Linked DNA regions of Homo sapiens. The protein of the gene in region 3 purifies or fractionates together with the protein of the main gene of each other region. This does not show direct contact. Each region holds a gene or a part of one and is shown on either strand. Other genes may lie near its edges. The genes, in order: STK38L, OLA1 and MAST4.

Evidence for each region.
Region 1: the proteins of MAST4 (region 3) and STK38L purify together in Homo sapiens (pull-down; one large-scale study listed by IntAct). This does not show direct contact.
Region 2: the proteins of MAST4 (region 3) and OLA1 fractionate together in Homo sapiens (co-fractionation; one large-scale study listed by BioGRID). This does not show direct contact.

The regions. Positions count from the first base shown.
Region 1 is NC_000012.12:27,310,253-27,313,898, reverse strand, and holds part of STK38L (serine/threonine-protein kinase 38-like), read right to left. Parts: intron 1,351-3,646; coding exon 1,227-1,350; intron 1-1,226. UniProt on the Homo sapiens protein: Involved in the regulation of structural processes in differentiating and mature neuronal cells.
Region 2 is NC_000002.12:174,245,625-174,249,992, forward strand, and holds the start of OLA1 (obg-like ATPase 1), read right to left. Parts: upstream 2,909-4,368; 5' UTR 2,828-2,908; intron 1,192-2,827; coding exon 1,091-1,191; intron 1-1,090. UniProt on the Homo sapiens protein: Hydrolyzes ATP, and can also hydrolyze GTP with lower efficiency. Has lower affinity for GTP.
Region 3 is NC_000005.10:66,595,106-66,599,201, forward strand, and holds the start of MAST4 (microtubule-associated serine/threonine-protein kinase 4), read left to right. Parts: upstream 1-1,287; 5' UTR 1,288-1,550; coding exon 1,551-1,913; intron 1,914-4,096.

The DNA.
Region 1 (3,646 bases), on a different chromosome or scaffold from region 3:
CAGAATAAGTGCACCTGGAAACGAAATATATTCTTTTAGAGTTTAGTGGGACATTATCCCACTAAAAAAGGCACCTGCAGACATTCTTTTATTTTCAAGGAATTTTAAAAGTTTTAACAGTTTTAACTGTTGTAAACACTGGTGCACTTACAACACAGAATTGACAACTGATTACATTTTTTTCATATATTTTTTGAGGCTTTAAAAAAAATAGGGAGCCAGGGGCAGTGGTTCACGCCTGTATTCCCAACACTCTGGGAGGCTGAGGTGGGTGGATCACTTGAGGTCAGGAGTTTGAGACCAGCCTGACCAACATGGTGAAACCCCGTCTCTACTAAATACAAAAAAAATTAGCTGGGCATGGTGGTGGGCACCTGTAATCCCAGCTACTCAGGAGGCTGAGACAGGAGAATCGCTTGAACCCGGGAGGCAGAGGTTGTAGTGAGCCAAGATCACACCACTGCACTCCAGCCTAGGCAACAGAGCGAGACTTCATCTCAAAAAATAAAAATTAAAACAAAACAAAACAAAACCCAGAATTCTTTGCCCTCCATTGCCATTCTTTTCCCCTTGCCCTCTTTGCTGAGCAATGATTAAACCTCTTTCCTTTATAAATTACACAGTCTCAGGTATTTTTTTTTTTTTTTTTTGAGACGTAGTCTCGCTGTTTTCGCCCAGGCCGGACTGCAGTGGCGCTATCTCGGCTCACTGCAAGCTCCGCCTCCCGGGTTCACACCATTCTCCTGCCTCAGCCTCCCAAGTAGCTGGGACTACAGGCGCCCGCCACTGCGCCCAGCTAATTTTTTTTATTTTTAGTAGAGACGGGGTTTCACCTTGTTAGCCAGGATGGTCTTGATCTCCTGACCTCGTGATCCATCCGCCTCGGCCTCCCAAAGTGCTGGGATTACAGGCGTGAGCCACTGCGCCCATCCAGTCTCAGGTATTTTTTGTAACAACATAAAATAAACTAACACAACTTATAACAACCTAATTATATACAGTGAACCCAGAACGGTAATATTTAAAATGTGCTAACTTTATAATTCCTTCAAAACAATCTGTTTTGTGGTAAAAATGAGCATCAATATGGTAGTAAATATTTTTAAACTGTGACTATGTAAAGCCTCAGAGCAAAGAATATAAAAGTAAACCTCACCAATAAAATTATTGTTGCATATAAAGATGTGCTTGTATCAGTCTGTCATTGATACAATGTTTGCTTTTACCTCCAGGGAGAAATTCCATGATTAGATAAAGATTCCTCTTATCCTGAAAACTGTAAAACATCTTCACCACCCAGGCACCATCTGCTTCTACCAAAATATCTCTTTCTGCTCGGATATGGGCCACCTAGATGAATATATTTTTGAAAAAAATAATTGTAAATACATCACACATTTGTTAAACTCATCTCTTACACTTATCCATCCATAACAGTTAATGAAGGAAAGATGGAGTTTCAGAAGATTTGATACATGTATGAATGTTCGTATTCTCATCAAATATGGAGAACCTCAAGAAATAGTTTATTTTAGCTTATATCTTTAGGTCTGAAAAGGTGAGGTCAACAGGTATATTACGTGAAGCTGAGGCCTCTGAGGTAGAGCAAGAATCAGTCTAACAACTTTTTAACCAGAATCTCTACCCAGCCTAGGATCCTGGCTTTGTCACATAAATTTAGGGCACTAGTGTGATTTTTAAAGTTAAAAGTAGTAAGCAGGGCCGGGCACAGTGGCTCACGCCTGTAATCCCAGCACTTTGGGAGGCCAGGGCAGGTGGATCACGAGGTCAGGAGATTGAGACCATCCTGGCTAAAACGGTGAAACCCCGTCTCTACTAAACATACAAAAAATTAGCCAGGCATGGTGGCACACACCAGTAGTCCCGGCTACTCAGGAGGCTGAGGCAGGAGAATCGCTTGAACCCGGGAGGCGGAGGTTGCAGTGAGCCGAGATTGCGTCACTGCACTCCAGCTTGGTGACAGAACGAGACTCCATCTCAAAAAAAAAAAGAGTAAGCAATGCCCTGTAAATTGGTACAGCAAACCTAAGCTTGGCTAAAAATAGCAAACTATTTTTAATTGTTAAACAAAGGTCCCAGCTTGATCATTATTTGGTGTTTTTTAAAGAAATAGTAACAATTATAGTAACTTTATGTTATATTATTGTTATAATATAAAACCTCTACCATATCTATAAATGTTAGCTAAAGCAAATTTGTGTAACTTTTGGGGATTTTGCCACTGATTTCTCGGACACATAATTACTAGAGATACTATCATGTGAAAATGTTATAGACTGGAAAATTTTATAAACTGGATAATTTATGGGGTTGGTATAACTGGTCAGTTTGCAGATGCTTTTGCATTAATATATTTATACACTTTTTCCAAAGATTAATAAGATTTGATTTATGCTTTTGCTATTTTCATTGTGCAACGTTAAAAACTCTGGTCCAAAGCACATGAGAACATACATTTGTAAACCTTTCTATGATAATAAAATATGATCTGCTTAAAGTGTCATATTTGGAATTACTCCTAGTGCAGTAAATATTCTGAGATCAAAGCGTAAGAGTTGAGGAGTAAGAACTTGTCTTCTGGCATGAAAATACTTTATAATTTCTATGGATCTGTTTCATTAAGTGAAAAGTGGTAGCAAGAGTGCCTACCTATTACCTTTCATGAAGCAATTTAAGGTGGTAAGGAAAAGCCCTAAACTTTGGTGTTGCATCTGGTGTGTAAGGAAAACAACTACAACATAAACATGGCTTGATTATTTTTAAATGGTTTAAAGCCAAATTACAGGATCCCTTTCCAAAACAGGATCCAAAGGTTGGAAAGTATGACCTATAGTAATCTGGTAGAACAACAGTGAGGAGATCAGTTGGTATTTAATTTTGTGGGGGTGGTTTGCATTAAAATAAATGTGATAAAAGTTAAAATATTGATGTATTAGAATTGAGTAGAAAAAAGCTTTCTAAAACAAAATCCAGTGGTAACAAATGCAAATTAATTTATACAGGGGTAAAAAACAACCCCAAAATGCAAAGGCAACTAGACGTTAGGCTACGGAGAGATTTCCGCCCCCCACCTCCCCACAGGAAAGAGCAGTGGTCCAGAGGCTCCTTAACTTCCCACAAAATATTGTAGACCAAGGGCTGTCCAGTACAGATGTAACACAAGTCATGTATGTAATTTTTAAATTTTCTAGAAGCCACATACAGAATGAAATTATTTTTAATAATACAGTTTATGTAACCTAATATATCCGAATATTATCACCTTAGTATGTAATCAATATAAAAATCATTGAAATATTTTATTTATTTATTTATTTATTTTTGCACCAAGCCTTATTTGCTGGATATCCCAATTTGTGCCCAGTAGCCACATGTGGCTGGCTGGTATCTACACTACAGCTGGAACTAACTGCTTCCTTCTGTCCTTCCTATTATACCCTAGTAGGACTAATCCCATTATGGCTAAGTTAGATTCCTGTTGCCCTCCCTGTCTCTGAGGCTATGCATCTTTACCCACGTCCTTATTGCCATCATTATCTTTCTTTTTTCTTCCTTTTTGTGGAGAATGGGGTCTTGCTATATTCCCATCATTATCTATAGTTCTCTAATCCAACTCAGTATCTCA
Region 2 (4,368 bases), on a different chromosome or scaffold from region 3:
GGCTCACACCTGTAATCCCAGCACTTTGGGAAGCCAAGGCAGGCAGATCACCTGAGGTCAGGAGTTCAACACCAGCCTGGCCAACATGGTAAAACCCCGTCTCTACTAAAAATAGAAAAATTAGCCGGGCGTGGTGGCACATGCCTGTAATCCCAGCTACCCGGGAGGCAGAGGCAGGATAATTGCTGGAACCTGGGAGGCAGAGGCTGCAGTGAGCTGAGATCACGTCACTGCACTCCAGCCTGGGCAAAAGAGCAAGACTCCATCTCAAAAAAAAAGAAGACTTTGAACACTTAAGTTGCGTGTGTATAGAGTTATGATAAACCCCACATATATTTCCTATCACTCTCTTATTTGCATATATTCAATTCACTGTAACTTTGAAAACATTACAGCTGGGCTCAGTGGCTCATGCCTGTAATCCCAGCACTATAAGAGGCTGAGGCAGGTGGATCATATGAGGTCAGGGGTTCAAGACCAGCCTGGCCAACATGGTGAAACCCCGTCTCTACTAAAAATACAAAAATTAGCTGGGCGTGGTGGTGCGCGCCTGTAATCCCAGCTACTCAGGAAGCTGAGACAGGAGAATCACTTGAACCCGGGAGGCAGAGGTTGCAGTGAGTCAAGATCATGCCACTGCATTCCAGCCTGGGCGACAGAGTGAGACTCCATCTCAAAAAAAAAAAAGAAAAAGAAAAGAAAATATTACAAAACTCAAATTTCTGCTCTCAGAACTTTCAGATTTAGACTCTTTATAACAGCAAACCTTTTACGATTTCCACTACGAAATTCAAAACTGTCACCTCCTTCTCCATCAAGCTTATTATGGTGGAGCTTTCAAATCAATTTCCTAAAGTAGCCTACTGCATGGCCTCTGGTAGACAGCCTATGTAGGTACCACACATAGCCAACCAGCACTGAAATCAATAAAATACATCTAAACTAAAGCCTAATTTTGCAATATTAATAGTCCAGCTTCCTGGCCTCTTTTCTTCAACTTAAAGTTTAATTACCTCACGGTTCCCATTTCTACAATAGGACCCAAAATATTTACAAAATGAAAATCACAAAAGCCCCAACGTTCACCTACCCAACATTTGGCAATCCAACAATACCAATTTTCAGTGAGGTTCCAAATCTTCCAATGATTGGGGGTGGTTTAATTCCATCACCTCCCTTTTTAGGGGGCATCTGAAATACCAAAGCAAACATATGAACAAAACTTTTTACTATCCACATGGACCCAAAACACATTTCATCACATACAATATATTATTGAATTAAGATTAAGAACAAAACATACTGTATATAGCGATCCAAAACTAACACAGAGCTAAATCCACTTTTTTTTCAGCAAAAATGTTTAAAAAGTTCTGTAAACATATCCGTTGTCAAAAGAGTCATTGCTGAGAAGTCCCAGAAAGACTGATCTAAAATCAATATTTGTTGGGCCGGGCACGGTGGCTCAGGCCTGTAATCCCAGCACTTTGGGAGGGGGAGGCCGAGGTGGGCAGACTGCTTGAGACCAGGAGTCGAGACCAGCCTGGCCAACACGGAGAAACCCCGTCTCTACTAAAAAGAAAAACAAATACAAAAAAATTAGCCGGCCATCAGGCGCGCAGCCTGTAATTCCAGCTACTCGGGAGGCTGAGGCTCGAGAACTGCTTGAACTCGGGAGGCGAAGGTTGCGGTGCGCCAAGATCACGCCACTGGGCTCTGCCTGAGCGACAAAGCTAGGCTCTGTCTTAAATAAATAAATAAATAAATAAAATATTTGTGGCACCAGGAATCAAAGATAAACTTAGAGTTTAGCTACCAATCTTCCATCCAGACTGCTCACAAAACACTTTATATCTTAACCTGATATATGGTTATATGAAAGAAAGCATTTGGAAGCAAGTACACAGAAGACAGTCAAAGAAAATTCCATTGTGGAACCACCAGCAGCCAAGTCACCCTTCACACCAAACCATTCCTCTATAATCTGGAATCTTATCTTTCCCATTCGCCCACAACCCCCATTTTTCACATAGATGAACACCCACCAGGTACTGGGGTCCTTCCACCAAGTCCCTCCCACCTTTGGCACTGAAGGTACGGCTCATCAGTCCTCATAAGCAACCTCCAAAATCTACATTATGGTTACTATTTCTAATGGTAAATTAATCGACGGAACCTTTTTATTTACAAGTCGAAACTTTCTCTGTCCCTTACTAGTTCTGTCTCCAAATCATGCGTGCAGAATTACTCCCACCCTTGGACTGCAAAGTGAAATCACAAAGACCGCTAAGCTCACGTCTCAGAAGCTGGGAACTAAAACTGTCCCAGTCTTCTGGCTGAGAGTTGTACCTCCTAGGACCACGCTGGGGCCCTGCCCTTGCAGTAGTATTCCAGCCTCTGATCCCTGACCCCGAGGGCCAGGAATTTCCCTTCTCAGCGTCCTGACACCTGTTCCTGGCCAACTCCCAGGCCTCCAAAGAACAGATACAGGAACAGCGCCTGTCGGGTCCTCTGGCCTACAGAGAGGTGGCCGGCAGCCCACCCAAAGTGGGCCCCACCCCCCATCCTCCTCTCCGGACTGGGCCACCGGGCGTCCTGGCGTCGGGAGAAGGCTTTCCCCAGGGCTTTCCCGCGTGAGGCGTAGGCCGATCTCCCGACGCGCGGCCTAGTCCGACAGCGCCTCATTCATCCACACATCCCCAAGCCACCCGCTGCCCTGGCCCCATCTTGGCCACTGGGCCCGGGCCCCGCGCCAGCCTCAGGGCAATGAGCCCAGGCGCCGAAGACCTGGCGGAGATCGCGCCCCCGGGCTCCCTGAGGGCCTCACCGTGCTCGGCCTGGGCGATGACACGGGGTCCCAGCGGCAGCGAGAGAAAGGTCCTGCCGGCAGCTGGAGGCGGGGAGGAAGGAGGAGAGAACGCAGGCCCGTCCCCTCCGCCGAGCGGCACGCACGACGGCGGCGACAGCGGCGGAACGGGCGGGCCGGGCGCCGAGCGGCACCTGCGCGCAGACCATGGGCCCCGCCCCTCCCCGCCTTGCCCGCGCGTCCCGCCCATTGGCCTAACCGGCCGGGGAGGCGGGAGTAGGGCGGGAGGAGCCCAGGGTGGGAGGAGCCGCGCGGCGGCAGGGAGCTGGAGAGGGGAAGGCGCTGGCTAGGCCGTTCCCGGGAGCTCTAGTCTTCCGCTTCGGCACGTGGGCTTCTCGGTTCTAGGTCTCCGCTTCCGTCTGGCTGCGCGGCCTGGGTTACCTGCTCACGTTCACTCGCGGGCCTACAGCCCCAAGCTTTCCCAGCTGGACTGCGGAGTGCCTTGGGCCCTGACTTCCCTCCGGGAGATCCGGGGCGTCTGAAGTCAGGCAAACAGCCACACCAGCCCCGAGGACCGCGTGGCCGCTAGCCCATCTCCCTTTTCTATAACTTTATTCGCTCAGTCTGTGCGGAGAGAAGCTGTTAACTAAAAGTTCTTGAAGGAAAAGGGGCTAAGGGAAACTTTGGTCTAGGGATTTCTTCCTCGCCTTATAGTTAAAGCGTCGCACACAGGTACTGGATCACAGAATGCGTTTAATTGAGCCAATTTCCCCCCTTTTCCTCTTGGTAGTTGAGAGCAGGGGCCTTTGAAATTTGGGAATTTCCAATCTGGATTTCGCCACTCATTGACTGTATGACCCTAGACAAATTAACTTCTCTGGACTTCAATTTCGTTCTGGATAAAATGAGGCTATTAAAACCACCTTATGAGGTTATTCGTGTGAGAATAAAATGAGACAATGCGTGTTGAGCTCATAACAACAGTACTCAGCACATACAGAAAAGGCTTGTGAGTAGTCGCTGTTGTTAATATTAGGATTTCATCCCATCTCACCCACATCATATCAATACCATGAGCGCCACTGGAGAAGGAATTCTTTCATTTAGGTCCTGGCCTTCAGATGTCATTCAGGTATTTGTTGTAATGAATATGATACCTGTCCAAAAATTGTGACACTAGAAGCTCCTTTTAAAGGGATTAGTTGCTATTAATATTAAAGGATGTAAATAGGTCGCCATCCCCATTTTACAAGTGAGGAAACAATATCAGAAAGGTTGATTAATTTGGATGAAGTCACACAACTAGTAAATGGCAGCAGCATATTTCAAACCACAATCTAACTGAAAATCTGGCCGTAATCCCAGCACTTTGGGAGGCCAAGATAGGGGGATCAGTTGAGCCTAGGAGTTGGAGAACAGCCTGGACAACGTGGTGAGACCCCATCTCTACCAAAAAACAAAAATTAGCTGGGTGTAGTGGCACATACCTGTAGTCCCAGCTACTCAGGAGGCTGAGGTGAGAGGATGGCTTGAGCCTGAGAGCTCAAGGTTGCAGTGAGCTA
Region 3 (4,096 bases):
GGAGCTATATTATGCAGTATCAATCTCTCGCTTGACCATAAGCTGCTCAAGGGCAGGGGACCTGACTTATTAATCTTTGTATCCCCTGCACCTGGCACACATCTCCATCAACGTACATGGAACTGAGGCGGTTGAATTTACATCCCAGGTCACTGTGCCAGAGCTCAGAATGGGACTAGAGCTGAAGGCAAGAGAGGAATCATTTATTTCCCACTGCTGAGCTGAGTGCTGGCTTCCAAGGAAATTCCAGTCACCGGACAGGCAGCATCCTCCAGCCCCAGGGAAGGACTTAAGGGTACTCTATTGGTACCTTTAGTGAAAGTTCTTTCTCCTAGTTCTTAGAGGTAAGGAAAATGAAGCAACCTGTCCTGTATCCTGTTGGTTTACAACCCAGGGCTAGGAGAATGTACATTGGAAAGTGAATCCTTTTCATCCTCTGCTTAGCTGATCATACCGAGACAGACAATTTGAGTAGGACTACAGAGCTTGGTCCTAATTAAATACAAGGACATACTTTTTTATCTTCCTCCCTATCAAAAGGTTCAAGTCTCAGACTTAACTTTTTAGTTTACAAACAGAAATAAAGACAGGAAATAGTCTTTTAAAAACGCTCCGTGTATCCAAGCCAGGCACTTTGCTGATGCATTATATATATTTGCTCTAAGCCTGCCAAGACCAGTAGTAATGTAGCCATTTACAGTTGAGGAAACTGAGGCCCAAAGAGCTTAAACGGAAAAGCAGAGATTAGAGGTCACTCCCCTTTGGGTCCGCTCACTATACCACGAAGTTTCTGTCCTTTTCCTCCAACACGCTGGTGAGTCCGTGTGCGTGGGTGACTGTGTGTGTGTGGTTCCTTTTTTCCCTATAGAGCCCTCCTTCTTGTCCGTTTTCTTGATTCCACTTTTTGGAGACAAAGTCCAGTTCTTCTCCAAGGTCTCACCATCCGCTCGCCGTCTCCCTCTGACGTCCCAAGGACGGTCAGCCACTCCCCCGCTAAGTTCGGAGTCTCAGCCCTTGGCTCCGATTCTGGGCTCCGCCCCCACCCTCCGGGGACCCCCGCCTGGTCCCTGTCCCCTGCGCCCAGGCGCTCCAGCGGGACCACGGCCCGCGCCCGGGCCCCGCCTCCCCTACCTGAGGCCCTCATGGCCGGAGGCGTCGCAGCCTCCGCCCACCAGCGCGCCTGCCCTGCCATTGGCTCTGCGGGCTGCCCGTCTCCTTGCTCCGTCCCGGAGGCAGGTTTTGCAAGGAGAAGCCGCAGTACCCGCGGCTCGGGTGCAGCGCGGGAGCACAGTGGAGCGCAGATCGCGGACCCGAGCGGGCATGTCCCCGCGCGCGGGAGCCTCCGTTTGCGGCCGGGCCCGGGCGGCTGTGAACTTAGCAGCGGGCTCCTGCGGCCCCGTCACTGCCATGTAGTCGCTGGCGGGGCTCCCTGCAGCCCGGGAGCGGCAGTGCCAGTGAGCCTGAGCCCAGGAGCCCGCGTCTTCCCCGGGAGGCGCTGAGTGCGCGCCGCGCCCCCGCCGCTCGGGAGGCACTTTGGGCCAGACAGGGAAATGGGGGAGAAAGTTTCGGAGGCGCCAGAGCCGGTGCCCCGCGGCTGCAGTGGCCACGGCAGCCGGACTCCAGCCTCTGCGCTGGTCGCCGCGTCCTCTCCGGGTGCTTCCTCGGCCGAGTCCTCCTCGGGCTCAGAAACTCTGTCGGAGGAAGGGGAGCCCGGCGGCTTCTCCAGAGAGCATCAGCCGCCGCCGCCGCCGCCGTTGGGAGGCACCCTGGGCGCCCGGGCGCCCGCCGCGTGGGCTCCGGCAAGCGTGCTGCTGGAGCGCGGAGTCCTTGCGCTGCCGCCGCCGCTTCCCGGAGGAGCTGTGCCGCCCGCGCCCCGGGGCAGCAGCGCGTCCCAGGAGGAGCAGGACGAGGAGGTGGGCCTTTCCCCAGCTTGCCCACTCTGGGTTCCGGCAGCCGGGCGACCGTAGTTTCCCATCCTGCGCACAGGCAGTGGGCAGGAGAGCGCTGTGGCCTGGAGATAGGGAGGGACCCCAAGCGCTCTGCCCCGAGCACGGGACAACGATAGTTAGGAGCCCCCCTGTGGGTTATTGACTTCCCTGTGGCTGTTACCCCCGTGTGTGTGTCTCAGTGTGCTGCCTGATGGTGTGTTTTTAAAATGTCAGAGAAGCAAACTCCTTCGTGTTTGTATCTGACTTGGTTGATCTGTGAAAGGATGCGATCTGGACATCTGGCGTGTCCCCACAACTCACCTCTGATTCTCCAAAGTGGGCGTTGTTTCCCACCGAAGCGCTTGGGCCGAGGGGCAGGGAGTTGAGGGGGAGAAATGGTGCCTTGGGGGTAAGAGGCAGGAGTAGGGTGGGGGGCAGCGGTAGCCGCGGAGTTGCCTGCGGAGGTTTCAGTGGCGCCAGCCCCCTGGGATCGCCCGCGGGTGGTTTTGGCGCGTCCCCGCAGCGTCGGTCCTCTGGGAGAAGAGGACTCCCCGCGCTCCCTCGGTGGCGCTGGCGTGCGCGCCTGCAGCTCCCGTTCAGACTTGTTTCCAGCTTGTCCAGATGAACGCTTGTCACCAAACCGAGTACAGATCGTCTTACCTTTTGCGGGGCGGAGCGGGGTGGGGGATCTGTATCTGCCCAGTTTCCTGGAAGGATGTTCCTCCAGAACTTGTGGGTCGCTTCCTGACACACTGAGCATAGGACTCTGGTGTCCTTCTGGCTGCTCTGTCCGGCTTATTTTCTGCTTTTGGAGGACAGTTAAAGAAGTGTACAATTCTTCACGTCTCAGAGCCAGACTCAGTTTAAAAAAAAAAAAGATTGTTTGCTTTGGACGTTTCTTGTGGGGAAGTCATCTTGATCAGGCAGGGCCACAAATAAAACATCACCTTAACATAGACTTATTGTGAAATTAATTCCTGAGTGCCAGTGTTGTATTTTCCTCATCTTGGATGGGGTTAGCTTTAGTAAATAATTGCCTTTGTCCCTTAGAGTAAGCAATCAGAGGCCCCCAGCCTGGAAGCAAAAACTGGATGTGGCACAAGGTTGAGAGGAGGCGAGTCCTAGCTTGGCAGAGATGGAACAAGCCTTAGCTGCTTAGCTGGTTCTTGGCCAAGCCACTTGCAGTAACCATGACCCATTCCCTAATTCCCCTAAGCCCCCATTGCAAGGATCCTGGATAAGGGTCTGGAGGCCTGCTTTCTAGAACTGCCTCTGCTACTGAGTGGTGAGACCTTGGGTATATCATTTCACTCCTCTGAGGTTCAGTTCCATAATCTGTAAAAGGAGGAGCTTCAAGGTAAATTTCATTTTCACTCTCATACTCCTGTTTCGAATCAGGAATTTCAGATGAATCCATAGCTCCAAATCGATCCTAGCGGCGGGATGTCAGGAGTTTGCTGAGTTCCTCACCCACCGCAGAGCTACATCCTAGCGGAGATGATCAAACCCTGTACTGCCCCAGCCTTCCTCGCTGATTACATCTCCCTTTCAAGGTGCGGGGCATGTGCCACGTGTTTGCCCCTTAACTTCTGCCTCCACTTCTACAGATGAGCACACTGGCATTGGGAAGCTGGGGGTGTACCCTAACTTAATGATTCACCAATAGTTCCTAATTTAGTATTGCCGCTGGTGGAGAGTAGTTAGTTGCTTTATGTTTTCTATTTAGCTAGGAGGGTGCTCCATGGTAAGTGACATGGTCTTGCAGGTGGTGGGGAGGGATGTTGTCGGGGAACTTCTGATCCCCATTCTGTCGCTGATTTATTGCCTGGCCTCAGGGTGACAGTGCTTTGCTTTGTTGGAAGTGGATATAATGATAACTTATTTCACAGGCAATGCAGTGAGAACTGGTTGATTGAAACACATTTTGGAAAGTGGAATGATTAAATAACATGGGTCACTATTTGTGAAATCTCAGAATTGCGTGTAAACTGATACAGTATTGCAATTTATTATGTAACTTAACCTGCGGCATGGGATGCTGGAAATTTCCCAGGAGCAAAATCTTGACTTGCTCTGAGAATTTTAAAGTGAAACGAAAACCAAACCATGTAGTTTTTTCCCCTCTTATGGAGTAGAGGAGTGATAATCTTTGTGAAAGGGGTTGAAGT